Linked DNA regions of Homo sapiens: region 2 is linked to region 1. The links come from fine-mapping of genetic effects on plasma protein levels. Region 1 holds a variant in brackets. A gene starts in the other region. All regions are shown on their reverse strands.

Region 1 (10,096 bases):
ACGACTGCTCAGGAGACAAAGGCTTCTCCCAAGAGGACTTGCCTGAGCACGGGAGGGCGCTGTGTTCACTCTCATCCTTGCAAACCAAAAGCCCTTGAACTTGGGACCACATTCATCCAAATATAAAACAGGATTTTAAAATCAAGTCCCAAAGGGAAACCAAAATGAGCAGATGCAATCAGAGTCAGAGGTGGGGTGTGAACTGCTCCCGCAGAATGAAACACAGGCGTGCTCAGGGGCCACCCCACAGGGAGCAGCTGTAGGCCAACGGCAAGCGGGCTGCAGTGGGAGTCGGGCCCGGGCTCCAGTTCAGCTGTGTGACCACAAGCAGGTCACTCCCCGCCTGTGGACACCTGTAAGATGGGAGAGTAATCCCTGCCCAGCACCCAAACAGGGGAGCTGGGCCAATGCTGCATCCCTGTCATGGCTGTGTGCAAATACAAAGAGCTCTTGTCCTCATGGGCAACCTGAGGTGCTGGTATGACCAAGCCTGAGAGGACAGGGAGGGACCTGGCGAGTGGAGATGGGGAGGAGATGCGGAGGGGGGAAGGGCTGCCAAATGGGGCACACACAACCCAACTCGGCCAGAACGAGACCCCCTGCACCTGTTCCCATGATCAGCTCCTCTGCCTAACAGGTCATACCTGAGGCAGTGATACCCAGACCACGTGGAGTGGCAGCTGTGGGGTCTCAATGAACCTTGCTGCTTCCTTTTTTTACAACAGAGCTCTGAGCCCCAGCCCCAGGCCCTGATTTGTCCTATGGCTAAAGGGGCTGGAATAGGAGAATGTGCAGGATGGGACTCTTCCTACAGCAAGGAAGGAGAGAAGCACGGACTACTCAGGAGCAGGACAGGAGGATAAAGGGGAGAGAGGATGGAGCAGCGGCTGGCCTGGGTTAAGGCAGGAAGGCGGACTATCAGGAGTGCCAGAACCCGGAGGATGGAAGTGGGGCTGAGGGAGGTAGCTGCCACCCTTGGCCAAGCTGAACTCACAGTGGGGACCCTTGCCCCCGAGACTTTCAAATCACCCCATGGCTGTGCACTGCCTGCACATCAGTTCTTTCACAGTATTGGTTTCCTGAGACTAGCTAGCAGCCACTTCGCTAGGAAATGGCAAAGGGGCTGCATGCTCGCTTCAGGAGAGGCCGGGATGCCGCCTGCCATTCCAGTCCTGGAGCGGCAGGGGTGGGGGAAAGCGGGGCAGGCAGTGTGTGACTCTGGTCTGTAGAGCAGAAGATCAGCTGGCCTGGGAGGGGGGTCTCTGGGTGTCTATGAGCCCAGGAGGCTGTGTGGGACCGAAAGTTCCTACAGGATGGGGAAAGGGCACTCTTCTTTCCCTCCTAGCCCTCACAGGCCCAGCGTGACCCGGCTGACATTATTGGGTGTCTACTGACCCAGGGAGGATCACCTTGGACTTTTAGCTTCAGCTCTGGCACTGACTGGGGACACATGGGCTTGCCTGAGGGGTGGTTCCAAGTCTGTCAGCTCCCTGGGAGCTCATGGGGACCTTGTGGTCTTGCTGCCCACTCTCTTGCCAAGGTTCAGCACAAGTCCTGGAGCACGATTAGTATTTATTGAATGAATGAGGGATGGATGAGGGAGGCTGGAGTGTGACCCTGACCCTGCACATGACAAGGAAGGGGGCGGTGAGGGCTGATACCCCCTTCCAGGCCTGCTGGGACCTCTGGCAGCCTGGAGGTCTCAGAAACATGTGTTGCTGCCTCTGGACACCTGCTCTGCAGCAGCCCTTACCTTCACCTCCTGAATCATCTTCGCCACCTCCACCTTAGTTTTCCCTTTGATTGACCTGCCATTGACACCGGTGATCTCATCGCCAGCTGCCACTGTGCCGTCCAAGGCTGCTGGGGTGTTGTCAAATACCTGTGGGTGCATAAGGAGAGTGGTGGGGGAAGAAAGGGAGGGCTAAGATGGAACCTGGGAAGACACCTGACCACTGCCTGGCTCTGTCTTCCACTCTACCCTCTGCTCTCGTTTTTTGAGAAAGCGTCTCACCACCCGGGCTGGAGTGCAGTGGCGTGATCACAGCTCACTGTGGCACTGAACTCCTGGGCTCCAGCAATTCTCCTGCCTCAAATACATAGTCAAATGATTTCTTTTTTTTGAGTCGGCGTTTCGCTCTTGTTGCCCAGGCTGGAGTGCAATAGCGCCATCTCGCTCACCGCAACCTCCGCCTCCCGGGTTCAAGCAATTCTCCTGCCTCAGCCTCCCGAGTAGCTGGGGTTACAGGCATGCGCTACCACGCCCGGCTAATTTCGTATCTTTAGTAGAGACAGGGTTTCTCCATGTTGGTCAGGCTGGTCTCAAACTCCCGACCTCAGGTGATCCACCTGCTTTGGCCTCCCAAAGTGCTGGGATTACAGGTGTGAGCCACCGTGCCCGGCGGCATCAAATGATTTTTGACAAGGGTGTCAAGAACATTCAATGGGGAAGGACAGTCATTTCAACAATGGTATGTGAAAAATGAAGTTGACACTACTTAACACCACATACAAAAATTAACTCAAGGCCAGGCGCAGTGGCTCACACCTGTAATTCCAACACTCTGGGAGGCCAAGGCAGGCAGATCACCTGAGGTCAGGAATTCGAGAGTAACCTGGCCAACATGGCGAAACCCCATCTCTACTAAAAATACAAAAATTAGCTGGGCATGGTGGCAGGCGCCTGCAGTCCCAGCTACTCAGAAGGCTGAGGCAGGAGAATCGCTTGAACCTGGGAAGTGGAGGTTGTAGTAAGCCGAGATCATGTCACTGCACTCCAGCCTGAGCAACAGAACGAGACTCTGTCTCGAAGATAATAATAATAATAATAATTAACTCAAAATTGTTCAAAGACCTAAATGTAAAAGTTAAAACTATAAAACTCAGAAAAATGCCTAGTCCAAAACCTTCACGACATTGGAGTTTACAGTAATTTCTTGGATGTGACACCTAAGATCCAAGTAACAAAAAATAAACAAATTGAACTTCATAAAAATTTTAAAACTGGTGCATCAAAATACACCATCCAGTCTGGGCAATGTGGCAAAACCTTGTCTCTACAAAAAACACGAAAATTAGCTGGGCATGGTGGTGTACGCCTGTAGTCCCAGCTACTTGGGAGGCTGAGGTGGGAGGATCGCTTGAGCCTGGGAAACAGAGGCTGCAGTGAGCTGAGATCCCGTCACTGTACTCCAGCTTGGGCAACAGAGTGAGACACTGTCTCGAAAAAAAAAAAAAAAAAGAACAGAGAAGAGAAGAAAAGAAAGGCAACCCACAGAATGGGAGAAAATATTTGCAAATCACATTTTTGATAAGGGATTAATATCCAGAATATATGCAGAATTCCTAAAACTCTTTTTTCTTTTTTTCCTCTTAGCCGATTGTGCTTTGTAGAGAATTCTTAAAACTCAACAACAAAAACCAAACAACCTAATTCAAAAATAGACCAAGGGCTGGGCACGGTGGTGCGCACCTGTAATCCCAGCATTTTGGGAAACCGAGGTGGGAAGATCGCCTGGGCAATATGGCAAAACTCTGTCTCTACAAAAAAAATACAAAAATGAGCCAGGCATGGTGGCGCGTGCCTGTAGTCCCAGCTACTCGGGGGTCTGAGGTGGGAGGATCGCTTGAGCCCAGGAGGTTGAGGCTGCAGTGAGCCATGATCGCACCCCTGCACTCCAGCCTGGGCGACAGAGCAAGATCCTGTCTCAAAAAAAAAAAAAGTTAAGATGGTAAATTTTACCACAATAAAAAAATAGAAAAAAGCAGAACAGAGAATACAGAAAGCAGGATGTCATCATCGAGATACATGACAAGAAGGACATGGTGTTCCCGATGACGCCCTCTGAGGATCTGGCACAATAAACAAAAGCCTGTGCCTGCAGCTACCATCACGACTCCTCCCAACACCAGGGACAAAAACAAAGTCCTCAAAGTTCTCACAGATCAGAAATAAAACACATCACAAATAAAGGATCACCAATAAGAATGGCAATAGCCATGTGACAGCAAAGGACAATGTGACAAGGCCATCACACTTCCACACAGGAATTACTGTCAACCTTGACGTTCATTCTTGAATCGAATGAGCCAAAATGTCAACTGAAAGGAATATGGGAACCACAATGACCAAAAAAGACAGACCCGAGGTCTCAAAAAATTGACATCCCACGTGCCCTTTCTCAGAAAGCTACAGGAGGATATTCTCCACGGGAGATCAGGGAGTAAACCAGGAAAGGGACCCCCAAGATGGGGGAATCCAAAGAGAAGGGGCAGGGGCAGGGGGAGGGCACAAGGGGGAGAGACTACAGGGCGGAAAACAGACTGAAGAAAATGGGGCCGGGCATGGTGGCTCACGCCTGTAATCCCAGCACTTTGGGAGGTCGAGGCAGGTGGATCACTTGAAGTCAGGAGTTCGAGACCAGCCTGACCAACATGGTGAAACCCCGTCTCTACTAAAAATACAAGAATTAGCCAGGCGTGGTGGCACGTGCCTGTAATCCCAGCTACTTCGGAGGCTGAGGCAGGGGAATCACTTGAACCCGGGGGCTGGAGGTTGCAGTGAGCCAAGATCACGCCATTGCACTCCAGCCTGGCAACAGAGCAAGACTTAATTTAAAAAAAAAAAAAAAAAGATGGGAAATTGTGGAAAACATACTGAGAAAACAAGGAGAGTGCAAATGAAAAAAACAAAACAGGAAATTACCCCCACCCTCTCAAAACACAAGAACAGGCTGAATTAAGAAAAGAAACATAGATTCCTCAGAAAGTTAAACATAGAGTTGTTTTGACTAGAATGAGGGCTCCGCAAGAGTAGGATCTTTGCTTTCTTATTCTTTTATCCCTAGTGCCTACAACAGAGCCTAGGAGGCATCTGGAAAAGATTTCCCGAACAAAATCTCCGTTGTACTAATATTAATTTAGCCAAAAATAGAAAAATAACTATGTTGGAAAGGTGGGATGAGAGGAAACAGACTGGTCATGGGAAGAACTAAATTCTCATCTACCAGACGAGGCAAAGTCAATAGATATTTACAGGTGATAGATCAAGAAACAACAGGATAGGCTGAGCACGGTGGCTCACGCCTGTAATCCCAGCACTTTGGGAGGCTGAGGCGGGTGGATCACTTGAACCCAAGAGTTTGAGACAAGCCTGGGCAACATGGCAAAACACCGTCTCTACAAAAAATACACAAAAATTAGCCAGGTTTGGTGGCACGTGCCTGTAATCCCAGCTACTTGGAGGCTCAAGTGGGAGAATCATCTGAGTCTGGGGAAATCAAGGCTGCAGTGACCCATGCTTGCACCACTGCACTCCAGCCTGGGCGACAGAGTGAGACTATTGAGAAAAATGGAAGCCCATGCATGAAGAGACAGAGAAAGCCGGGTGAGGTGCCCAGGGGAAGGGCAGTGGATTGCTATTATTTGATACAGGGCTTTTAATGCTCTTGACTTGGTAGAGGCAAGTCATATGGCACTTTGATAAAAACAAAATTGAATTTAAAAAAATCAATTCTATGATGATGATGATTATTATTATTTTTGAGACGGAGTCTCACTCAACTGCCCAGGCTGGAGTGCAATGGCACGATCTCGGCTTACTGCAACCACCATCTCCCGGGTTCAAGCGATTCTCCTGTCTCAGCCTCCCAAGTAGCTGGGATTACAGGAACCCGCCATCATGCCTGGCTAATTTTTGTATTTTAGTAGAGACAGGGTTTCACCATGTTGGCCAAGCTTGTCTGGAAGTTTTCACCTCAGGTGATCTGCCCACCTCAGCCTCCCAAAGTGCTGGGATTACAGGTGTGAGCCACCGCACCCGGCCAGTTCTATTATTTTATTGGCTGGTGGTTCATGCCTGTAATCCTAGCACTTTGGGAGGCTGAGGTGGGTGGATCGCTTGAGGCCAGGAGTTCGAGACCAGGCCGGCCAACATAGCTAAAACCTCTCTCTCCTACAAATACGAAAATTAGCTGGGCATGATGGCGCACACCTGTAATACCAGCTACTCGGGAGGCTGAGGCATGAGAATCGTTTGAATCCAGGAGGCAGAGGTTGCAGTGAGCTGAGATCACGCCACTGCACTCCAGCCTGGGCAACACAGTGAGACTCTGTCTCAAAAAAAAAAAAAAATCAATTATACTATTTTATGATGTCTGTTCATTCTAAGCAAACTTGCACCTGAGGTAGGTAGAGGGAGGTGGCGAGAGGCTGAGCAGACACACGGCCAGGAGGCCAGGCCTGGGGGAGGTCTTGCTAATGCCTCCTGGGTCACAGGAGGCCGAATGGCTCA[T/C]GAAGGAGGCAGCACTGTGAGCAGAAGCAAGACCAGGTCGATCCTGGGAATCTGTCTTCGAGGCCTACAAGCGACTCCTGAGCAAGATCCTCACAGAGGCCAGTTTCCCATCTGCCACCAGTGAGAGGGTTAGAACAGGTATTCCCAAGGCTACAGCAAGGTCACTGACTTGGATGAGCCACACAGTGAAGGAGGCCCCACAGCAGGCCTGTCACCACTCCTGAGTTACAGTGGACAGAATATCACCAGTGCAGCTTCCTCTGCAAGAGACACAAGAGTGTTCCTCACCACTGGCAGAGCATCTGGGAAAATGTACAGCTACCTGGAAAATAGCAGCAGCTACTGCTTAATGCATGGTTCTTTCTTTTTTTTGAAACAGGGTCTCACTCGGTCACCCAGGCTGGAATGCACGGAATGCAGTGGCGTGATCTCAGCTCACTGCAACCTCTACTTTCCAGGTTCAAGCGATTCTCCTACTTCAGCCTCCCAAGTAGCTGGAAGTACAGGCGTGCACCACCACGCCCAGCTAATTTTTGTATTTTAGTAGAGACGGGGTTTCACCATGTTGGCCAGGCTGGTCTCGAACTCCTGACCTCGTGATCCACCCACCTCGGCCTCCCAAAGTGCTGGGATTACAGGTGTGAGCCACTATGCCTGGCCAATGCACGTTTCTTAACTTCTAGTGTGTTAGGTCGTTTTGTTGACTTCTCACAAGAACCCAGAGATGATTGTGTCTACATGTTTTAAATCCCCGCTTTCTAGGTGATGAAACTGAGGCCCAAAGAGGTTAAGTAACTTGCTAGTAAGTAGGAAAGAAGCTTGCATTTGAACTCAGGCCATTATTTCATCGTGTTCCTATGACACTTCATTTTGGCTAGTACGCAAGGCTGATGGTTTTGTTGATTCAATAGTCAATTTCTATTGCATGTCCACTATGTGCCAGGCACTGTACCTGGTGCTTACTGCAGTGAAAAAGCAAACCAGGACACTGCCCTCAGTGCAAAGAGTCTACTCTACTAGACAGAGGGCAAATAACAAGTAATAAGTGCCGAGAAGGAAAAAAACAGAGCGACACAGGGGAGAAGACAGGGCAGAGCAACGCAGCGCAGGTGGTCAGAAAGCCCCTCTGAGAGGGTCAGACCTCAAGAATGAGAAGGAGTCAGCTATGCAGTGTGGAGAAATGAACCTGCCTTTGTCATGCCCAAGTAGGGATGTACCTTGTGCCCCCCTCCAAAGCGCCCAATACCTGGACGATATAGAGGCAGGGACAGTACTGGGCCCCTCCTCCAATGCTGATCCCGATCAGGTTCTGAGCATCCTTCTGCAGGGTCACCTTCCCAGGCACAGTCGGGATTCCGCTAGAAAGGAAAGCAAGCTAGGCTGACTCTCCTGGCAGAAGGATGACTGGAGCGGGTGGGCCCTCTAAAACTCCTGAGGGGCTCCACTGGCTGCCCAGCTTTTTCTCTCCCTCCCTTGGACAAAACAACATTTTGTGCTGGAACATGCACAGCTCTTGGAGTTAAGCAGATGTGGGATCAAACCCCAGCTCTGCCATTTATCAGCTGTGGAACTTGGTTTTTTTTTGAGATGGAGTCTTACTCTTGTTGCCCAGGCTAGAGTGCAATGGCGCAATCTCGGCTCACTGCAACCTCCGCCTCCCGGGTTCAAGTGATTCTCCTGCCTCAGTCGCCCAAGTAGCTGGGACTACAGGTGCCTGCCACCACGCCTGGCTGATTTTTTTGTATTTTTAGTAGAGACGGGGTTTCACCATGTTGGCCAGGCTGGTCTTGAACTCCTGACCTCAGTTGATCCGCCTGCCTCAGCCTCCCAAAGTGCTGGGATTACAGGCGTGAGCCACCGTGCCTGGCCAGCTATGGGACTTGGGTAAGTCAGCCTCTGTGCATCTCAATTTCCTCATCCATAAAATGTGGATGAGCACCCTTATCAGAGTTCTTCTAACCATGCATGGAGGGCACTAACAGCAACCCAGTCCATAGCAGGCACTCCATAAAAATAGGTCCCCCTTCCCTTTCATTTATTCGATCTCTGAGATTTGAGCCAGGTTCTGTCCTTGTCACCTTATCAGGCATCTATGTAGTATGATGGCCACCTACTCCAGGGAGTCTTCCTCTATTAAACTGTCCACCTCCCACCTCTCAACTGCTCGATTACCTCTCGGTTTCCACTATAAATTAGCATTGACTGGTGTTTTATGATAAGTACTCACGCTGATTCACTTATTCATTCAAAAAACATTCGCTAACAACCTACTGACGTCAAGTCCCTTACTAAGTGCTGAGCATAGAGAAAGGCATTGCACCCACTCCTTGATCTGAAAGAGGATATATTCTAATGGGAAAATCTGTCCTACTAACAACCTATGTTGGGAAGGAAGGGTGTCTACAATATTCCTATTCAACCTTCAAAACCTGGTTCAATTGCTACGTCCTCCATGAAGCTTTCCTTGACCATCCCAGCAGAAGCACTGCTCCATCTGCTTTGCTCTTCTTGTCACCAAGTCATGCTAATAGTGCCCTTATGGCACTGAGCTGTGATTATCCCTTTAACTGTCCACAGCCCCCTACAAATAGTGAGCTCCTGGGAGAGCAGGGTCCATTGCTGCTTCAGTACAACAACTGATCCACCGCTGAGAAGCAAGGGTCTGTGGGACTGGGAAGTCCAGGGAAATGAGGAACTTGGGGCTCCTATACTGCTGGAACTTGGGGGAATAAAATACTCACAGTTTATCCTCTTCGATGTCATAATCCAAGTCTGCAAACATGGTTCCGAGAGTTGGAGTGGGCTGGCTAACTGCCCAGCTCGGTAGGGGAATGGGGAACTGGATCCGGGAGAGAAAGGAGCATAGGATTTAAGGAACCCAAGTGCCTAAATGCCAACGCCACCCCTCCCTCCACCACCTCATACGGGACAGCAGTGCCCTCCTCTTCCCTCTGGAGTGGGATGGGACAGTCTCCGGGTGGGGGGCTGGGTAGGTGATTCTTACTAGGTACAAAGGGGGGCTCCAGGCCAGGGCGATAGGCTCAGATCCCAGAGTCCGCCCCACGGGTCTCCAGGCCCTGGGGAGCTGCCTCTGTCGCTCACCGGAAGCGTTGGTCCCACAGCCGGGTCCCGGCCAGGCTGGTACCTGAACCCACCTGCCGTTCCACCTGGCGGTGGCCGCGATTGTCACGTCACTTCCGGCAAGACGCGGAAGTCCCGGCTTTCCCCCCACTGGATATTTGCTCCAATCCCTGCAGACAATCCTTCCCTTCCCGGCTCCCGGGACGCTCGGAACCAAGAACGAGAACAAGTATTGGCGGAAGCTCGCTGTTAGTAGGAACAAGCGAAAACAGAGGAACGGTCTGGACAGGCTGACAGCGTCTAACCCCGCCCTTTGCCCTGCCGCCGCCGCCATCTTGGGAAGGGCAGGGTTTGTCCCAGCTTCCTCAGCTGCACTCAGGGGCCCGCGCCGGCCCGGCGGTTGCCATGGCAACGAAAGCATCCCTGAGCCGGGGTTACCTCCGGCGAGGCTCAGTGGACTATAAACCCCAAGACATCATGCCCTTTCACCCCTTCACCACCTGGGCCTGTGACTCCCCTACTAGAATGGCCCTTTGAGGTCCCAGCCCATCCCAGTTTCGCCAACTTAAGTGCCAAAGAGCGGGGAGTGATTTTGTGCGGGGCCACACACAGTTGGTGTAAGATCTGGATCGTGGCCCTGAAACTCCCGCCGCCTAGTCTAGGGATCTTTGAACGTCCAAACACTAAACAGAGAGCCAGGAGAGGTGTATTCAGTGGGTCTTG
Region 2 (8,000 bases), not on the chromosome of region 1:
TCCCCAAGCAAGGTGAGGTCAACGCCACCCACCTTCCCCCGGTCACCCTGGGAGGGGTCGCTCCGGCGGGCGTCTGCTGGAGGGTAGAAGCGGGGAAGGGAGGCAGCGGCGGCGCCCAGGCGGCGGTAGGTAGCCGGGCGGCGAGGGCGCCCGCACCCCCCGGCCGCTGCGCTGCGCTGCGGTGCGCACGGGCTCCGCCGGTTGCTATTCCGGCTGGTGGCGGCCGCCGCAGGAAGGGCCGGTTCCTGCGCTCCCCCCGCCCCTTTCCCTCGCCTTCGGCTGACGCTGACGTCGGATGAGTGATCCGGAGGGACGCTCCGACCGCGGCCGGGAGGCTCCTGGGGGCCGGGGCTCCGAGGTACCTGCCCTCCGGGGTCGGGGCGGGGGCGCGCCGGGCGGGCTGCAGGAAGCAGCAGGAGACGCCCGGCAGCCGGGACGGTCGGGGACGCCTGGTAGGAGCTGCCTTCTCTGCCCTCCGCGGGCGGCGCGTGATAGGCGAGTCGCCTCCTCGGGTCCCGGATCCCGGTGCGGGAACCGCATCAGCCCCTTCCCCTCCCCTCCTCCCTCCGGCCTGGGAAGGTCTGGAGGATGCGCGCGCCGTGAGAGCGTGCGTCAGCCCCGGGGGAGCGGTAGGGAAGCGTTCCGCGCTCCGGCCCCAGCGCTGGGAGCACCGGCACCCATGCCAGCCCACCCCACCCACCCACCGCGCGCCTCGCCTTCCCGGCGGCTCCGGCCCCAGGACCCCGAGCTCCCTGGTGGGCAGGGACTTGCGTCCAGGGTTGACTTGTTGACAAGTTCACCTGCCGCGGCGCCTGGTGTGTGCTTTTTCTCTTCCCCTCCGTGGCCCTTTTTTTGGCAGGGGCGGCAGAGAGCATATGGGTACCTCTTTATAACCACTAGTGCCAGGAGGCCTGAGCTTGGTCCCCCGGGGGCGAGGTGCTCAGCAGTCTCGGACTAGACGGGGCGAGAACCCCTAAGCAACCCCGGTTCCAGCAAACCCTGGCGCGCCCGTTTCCTTTGGGCGCTGCTGACTCCGCCTTTCCTGCTCCGGGGCTATTGCAGCTCCTGCTTCCTCTAGAAACGAACATATCCTGTTGTTATGTCTGCCTTTCCCCCAAAGCGGCTCTCCAGGAACCTTTCCCACTGTCTTTTTACTTGTAGTACCCCCAAAGCACCTGAGCTTCTCTTTGGGGTCTTAAAAGTATCGCGCCCTTATTCTGGCGAAGGGCATTAACTGCCTGGTTGGGGAGAGTTAGTTTGGAAAGAATCGCGTTCTCTTCATTTAGATGGCATTAAAAAATTAGCGCAAGAAAGGGTTTTGTTCATGAATCTTAGTAACCGAGATCTGGTAACGGTATAAAAATTATCAAGGCCTGGAAAATATGTCACCAGCTTGCTTGGGAGTGATACTGAATGTAGGAAGAAAGACACATAAGGCATTTATTGGCCATTAAGGTCCTATAAAATATGACTCATCGCAAACATGTTTTTGTCCATACGTTTCAGTGAAGTCTCTTCGGAAAATCTCAAATTGGTTTCTGTGGCCCTCTGGTTTGAATCTGAGATCTGAACTGTTCTGTGGTTAGGGAGTGAAATAAGAAATGCTTAGTTTGAAATCTAGGCTCCCGATGCAATTTCATACCCCCTGTTTAAAACACACACTCTCTAAAAATGCTTTTAAGTAAGTTTTCAAACCAAAGATATATTTTTAGATTTCAGTCTTTATTTTTGAAACACCCTTTGTAGAGAATACCACAGGGACAAAATCAATTTATAATCCTGAATAGCTCAAATATCACTCTTTGGTTTTATACTAATACTGTACATACATCTTAATTGCAGGAGATGTTGCTTTCTAATTGTTTCTGTTTGTATTACAAAGGGAAATAATTGTACTGTTTATAAAGATGAATCTTTAGAAAACGTAACAGTTAAGCTACAGCGGGCTATTTGTGGAGAGACCTGATGTTAAAAAACGTTAACCCTGTATCCTCCACCCGTGGATCATTGAGTGCTAAAGATACTGGATGGTAATTGCCTGGGTGGTTTATTTTGTAACTATTTTCCCCCATTTGGAACACCTGAGTAACTATCTGACTGCTTTCTCTACGCATCTTTACCGCAGTGCATAAAGATCAATCTCACGAAAAGTATAGAAAATTTTGTTACTCAGAGCCTTCAAAATCAGTACGTTTTCAAGGTATTTGACTAAATAGTACATTTTTTTCAGGTGCAAGCAGCATTAGCGGTATGGAGGTCTGGTAGTTATGCCATAACGTAGAAGGATAAACCTATGTTTGGTATGAACTTTTAAGATTATAGAAACCTCATGCGAGAGAGGGAGGAAGTTAACAGGCCCCAAGTGTCAGGATGAATTTTTCCTCTTCGTTGGTTGAGCCTGAGGGTAGGTGGCAGTGTTTATAATCAGCACGCTGGTCACTAGTGTCCTTTTTTTCCATCTGCATTACTAGATTTATGGGAACCATTAATAAGGATGCTATCTGCATGTTTTGTCCATGAGGCAACATAGATCACTAATGAATCTTATCCCCCAACCCCACCACCATTCGCAATCTGCCTCAGCAGAACTTTAAACTCAAAAAACACTTTTCCCCCGCTTTTTTCTTGATTCCCAAGCTGATACATTTCGTATCACAATCATATCTAACACTCTGAGGGAGTATGGAGGACTCATGGGCTTTGGATCCTGATGGAGCAAAATCAGAATCCCTGCGGTAACACCTAACTAGCCGTGTGACCTTGACCAAGTTACTTAAGTCACCATTTCCTTATCTACAGAACAGGAATATCCACCTTTTTAGGGGCAGGGTGGAGATTAGAGATAATGTATATAAAATGCTTTGCACGCTTTTAAATAGGACTCACTCAGTAGTAATAAATTATTTTTTCACATGCTAAACATATGCTATCCGTATCTAAAAAGAATGCTGCTGCTTTGCCTGTGATAGGAAGTGTATTTCAATTTGGTTTTGAGTAGTTCAAATAATTTTGTACCAATACTAAGACCCTGGGCTTTATGGAAAACACTCTCTGAAGTTGGGGGGTGCAACCAGAAACAAAACAAATCTAATTTGTTCCAGTGGGGATAGATCTTCCAAGCCCCTGTCACTCAAACGTGGTCCATGGACCAGTAGCATGTGGCCTCCCCTGGGAGCTTATTAGAAATGCAAAATCTTAGCGTGCCTGCTACTCTCTTCCAGACCCAGTGAATTCAAATCTCCATTTTAACAAGATCTCCATGAGTATGTTAACATTTGAGAAGCAATGCTGTAACCTGTTATTTCTCAAACTTTAGTGTCCCAGAGAATCATTTGGGGGCTTGTTAAAATAAGTGTGGATTCCCGGTCAAGCTTCCTTCATCTGCTGTTAAGCAACATCTCAGGTAGCTCTGATCCCTAGGGTCTCCCACAGACTGTCCAGCACACTACTCTAAAATGAGCCTCTGTCCTCTTCCTTCACAAAGCACTTTGGCAACTATGATCTTATGTGATACTCAACCCCCTTTGAGATAAGTAGATATTATAATCTCCATCTGTCTGATAAGGACTGCAGGCATGATTTGCCCTGGATAGATGCATATGGTAGAACTGCCTTGGAGCCTCTAAAAATCCTGGCTGACCACACTTTCACTATTCTAGCAATTTACTATTTAGTATTATAGCATCAAATTAACATAGTTTTTGTTTTTTGACCTGTAAGTAATTTTCACAAATAACTAATGAATCTCTCCAGGACAGGGAAGACTACATGTGATAGGGCATTTTATACCTGTTTTTATAACAAAGCCTGCCTACTATGTGACTGTAGGCCAGTTGCTTAAGATAACTGAACTTAAACTTCTTCGTGAAATGAATATAAATCATTATGTCAACTTGGCCGTATTGCGAGGATACTCCGTGATGTGGGTGAAGCATACACCCCAGTGTCTGAGAAGTGGCAGTTCCTCAATTAGTGGTAACTCCTTGTCCCAGTGTAAACCTAGTGAGCTAGAATGAGTTCATGAAAAGGTGGGGAAATGATGGCCTGCATCACTCATGATGGGAATCATCTGTCTCTCTTGCTAAGTCAGATGACATCATCCATCAGGCCTTTGACCAAATCAGAGAAGTGGGATGACTTAGTATTGAACAAGCATTGGTTGTATATGTGCCATGAGCTACACACTGTGCTAAACACTCAGAATCCCAAGACTCAGACCCCACCATGCTCTGGAGGAGCGTACAGCTGAGTAAAAGAGGGAAAGAGAGGAGTCAACTAACCAATTGCCTTTCAGGGAAAGCAAGAAGGAGATAGAGACACAGGTGGTAATGCAGCCCAGGGCGGGGGCATCCCACCCCAACAGGAGAAAGGGCAGAGAAACCCTGAGATGCTTCATGGAGGAGATTGCCCTTGAGTTGAGCCTGAAACAACCAGTAGGAATTCAGCAGGTAAATAAGGGTTGGGAGTGGGGAGAAAGAGCGTTCCCCACTCCCAACCATGTGTATGTGTGTACAAAAGTCAACAAGTAAGGGAGAGAATGCTAATACAAATAGTCCTCGTGTCTGGAGCCCAGTGTCTATGTGTGTCCCTTACTAGCTGAGTGGCCTTGGACAAGTCTGATCATCTGTGATTCAGGAGGATTAGATGCACTAATTAGTGTAAGCACAGGACTGATTCTAAATATTCGTTGCATGGTTGTGGAGGTGGTGGAGGTATTAGTAGAAAATAGGGGACTAATATTAAAAAGTCATTAGAATCAGAGAACATTGCAGAGTTCAATTTTAGAATACATTTAGCAGAAAATACATGAATTAAGAGAGGGTGACTGAATGCAATATAGTTCTGTGGAGTGGAAAATATGAGGTATATGTGTTCAGTGATGGACCACTGAATATATAGATAGTAGTCATTGTTAATTTTAAGAGTCTAGATTGGAGACTAGAAAGGTCCTCTGGTTCTAGTTAGTGAAAGTATTTGTACAAGAAGTGACTCTTAAGTATTGCAACAATGTTCCAAGAGTATACATATTGAAATCCATCTCTTACCATCATCATGATCACACTCACTGCCACATCTCTGTTCCCAGAACAGGGCATAGACATCAGTTTCTGAAACCTAATAGTACCTAGGGGAAAATCCGGTCTTCTCTGTGATATTTCCAGGGTAGAGCATTCTAAGCCAGAAACCAAGAAGCTGATATTTATAAATAGTGCCCCTCTCCTTAGTCATAGGAACCCTGACAACTATCAAGGAAGAAATCAATCAGCAATTGCAGGTTTTGTTGTGCACAGTAGCACTATATTGGCAGTGGATTTGGGCCTAACCCAGCACCTAAGCCTGTGATTGGGGGAGATTGTTTTTATTGAAACAGCCCCATTAATCAAGCTCCTTTCATCCAAGAGTAGAGCAGAGTAGTTAAAAACAGGAGCTCAGAAGTCAAAAGTAAACTTGTGTTTACCAGTTGTTGACTTTGGGTAAATTACTTCGTCCTTCTAAACTTTGTTTCTCACTTGCAAAATGGGTTGATATCCCCTTCATAATGTGTGGCGATGACATAATGATGTTAAGTGCTTCACACATGTAAAGTGCTTGGTAAGTGGTAGAACATAATTATTGCCCCTTGCCCAGCACATATGTACTGAATGGCTACTGTGCTCCAGGGGCCATGCTTGGTGCTAAGGAGGCAAAGATGAACTTGAGGGTCCCTGTACTCATGGGACCTACAGTCTAGTGCAGGAGATACAGATGTAATTAGCTCCTTGAAGGAGAGTACAGGAGTGCAGTGGCACCACCAGTATGGAGCAGTTAACTCTTCAGTGGGGAGGTCTGGAGTGCAAGACCCATGGGGAGAGGGATAGAGACGAGATGTTGAGTTGGGAATACTTCACTGAAGAGGCAACATTTGAGGAGAGTCTTGATGTAAATTCTAAGTTAGGCAATCAGACAAAGGAGGGGGAGGGCATTCCAAGTGGAAAGAATCATCTCAAGTCCTTGAAGTGCATAGTATATTCAGGGAAGCTCAAGCGTTCTGACATGCGCAGAGGGAATAGTTCTATCGGAGGGTGGGGAGGAGAGTAAGATTTGGGGGGAAGGGAGCCAGGATGTAAAGGGGCCTGTGTTTTTTCAAAAAATGTTTGGAATTTCTCTAGTGGCAAGAGAAAGCAATTAAAACATTTTAAGTAGGAGAGTGGAAAAATTTGATTTGCATCATATAGTGATAGGTCGGGCAGTGTTGTAAAGATTGGAATGGACAGGTACACAGATAGCATTGCCTCTTAAGGCCTAAGCTGTGAAGATAGAAAAGATAAGATGCATTCAATCGCTTTTTAAGAGGTAGAATGGAGAGAACCTGGAGACTGGTTGCAAAAGATGAAAGAGGCTGGGTGTGGTGGCTCATGTCTGTGATCCTAGCACTTTGGGAGACCAGGGCAAGAGGATTGCTTGAACTCAAGTGTTTGAGACCAGCCTGGGCAACATAGTGAGAACTCATCTCTACCAACAATTTAAAAAATTAGCTGGGTGTGGTGGTATGTGCCTGTAGTCCCAGCTACTTGGTAGGCTAAGTAAGAGGATTGCTTGAGCCCAGCAGGTCAGGGCTGCAGTGAGTCATGATTGTGCCACTGCACTCCAGCCTGGGCAACAGAGCAAGACCCTGCCAAAAAAAAAAAAAAAGAGAAAGAAGTGAGGTTTTCAACTTAGGCCATTCAGTACATTTAGTGCTGGTAATTAACATAGGGACCACAGAAAGAAGAATTTGAGAGTGCAGATGGAAAGAGGAGTTTAGTTTTAGATGTGCTGAATTTGAAGTGCCTGTGGAACAATCCAGGTGAAGATTACCATCTGGAGGTGGAAATGTGGATCTGGTGCCCTGGAGAGGTGTGTGATTTTGGAAGTTGTTGGCATACAGCTGGCAGTTGAAGCCATGGAAGTGGCCTCACCTAATGAGAAATCACCTAATGAGAGCAAGTAAAGTTCCAAGCTTGGAACCTTACAGATACTGATATTTGAGATGCAGACACAGAGGAAAAGAAGCTAGCAAAGAAAATTGAAAAGATAGAAAAGTGTGGAGAATATTTCCTGAAAAGTAGAGGAAGAGGAGCATTTCAAGAAAGGAAGAGAACGTGGTCAAAAGTCATGAGAAATGAGGACTTGAGTGGGGCCCATAGTGAAAGATGTTCTCTGGGCTGGTGGAGAAAGGAACCAGAGAGCATGGGCTTAGAACTCTTGACTGTGAAGAGAAGGAAGAGGATGGGAACTGAGAAAGAGTTTGAAGAATGAGGCCTGATGGTAGAAGCCAAGGGAGGTTGATTAACATGAAAGAGAAGAGACAGAAAGATGGACTAAGGTGGGCAGGGGTAAGAGTGTAGGAGCTGTCCTTCCTAGGGAGAAGGAAGCGAACAGCAGGTTGTGGTCATGATTCTGGATAGCTCCAAAGAAGTGAGCAGGGGTGCACAGAGAGTGGAAACTGTGACAGAAGGTGCCCAGCGCAGTGCCAAGGCCATGGTTCCCCAGAGTGCGTGAAGAGGGAGACTGCCTGTCACCACCCTGCAGGGTTTTCTTCCCACTGCTCCCTGAAGGCCAGGAGCTAAGTGTCCTGGTGCCTAATGCTGTTGACTCAGTGTTGCCATTTGCAGCATTGGCATCATTGTGAAGTATGTAAACATTGTGTTGTGTTTGTGCTAAGCCACTCCCCACTTTCTGCTTCCTGTTTCTCTCTTCTCTGCACTCCTAACCTGGAACTCAGTACCTTCAAGCAACTTTCTGGGTTTTCTACCTGGTCTGCCCTAGAGGGTACATGCCCAATATCCCTGTCTTTCCTGACCCCCATCAAAATAACCAGTCTTGTGCTTTATAAGCTCTGGGCTTTGCTGCTGTTTATTTCCTGAGAAAGTAGAGAGAACCTGAAAAAGGGATCTTTATTAGTTCTCAAATAACGCCAACTAGATGACCCAGCAGACGCAAGTGTGGTGCTGTTAGCTGAGCATACATGATCATATAGT

Which allele goes with the higher level. Positions count from the first base shown, and alleles are read on the strand shown. Strength reflects both the effect of a copy and how common the allele is.
In carriers of allele C in region 1, the plasma level of the protein whose gene starts at base 285 in region 2 tends to be lower than with T alone (moderate association).

The links. PIP is the chance, under the fine-mapping model, that this variant and not a neighbour inherited with it causes the effect. The UK Biobank Pharma Proteomics Project read protein levels with antibody pairs (Olink). The fine-mapping took linkage between variants from a reference panel, not from the people measured, so its PIPs are less certain.
Region 2: it holds the start of ICA1, and the variant in region 1 is fine-mapped to the plasma level of the ICA1 protein (UK Biobank, PIP 0.91).

Annotation. Positions count from the first base shown.
Region 1 is chr22:38,056,788-38,066,883 of GRCh38, reverse strand. It overlaps PICK1 (protein interacting with PRKCA 1), which reads right to left and starts at 9,480. Exons shown (of 13, transcript NM_012407.4): 1 at 9,297-9,480; 2 at 9,034-9,131; 3 at 7,539-7,650; 4 at 1,754-1,882. The coding sequence starts at 9,074. RefSeq lists enhancers at 8,779-9,402, 9,647-9,706, 9,403-10,028. The variant T/C (reference allele first, on the strand shown) is at 6,293.
Region 2 is chr7:8,254,452-8,262,451 of GRCh38, reverse strand. It overlaps ICA1 (islet cell autoantigen 1), which reads left to right and starts at 285. Exons shown (of 14, transcript NM_001136020.3): 1 at 285-358. ICA1-AS1 (ICA1 antisense RNA 1) reads right to left here and starts at 227. Exons shown (of 6, transcript NR_125740.1): 1 at 33-227.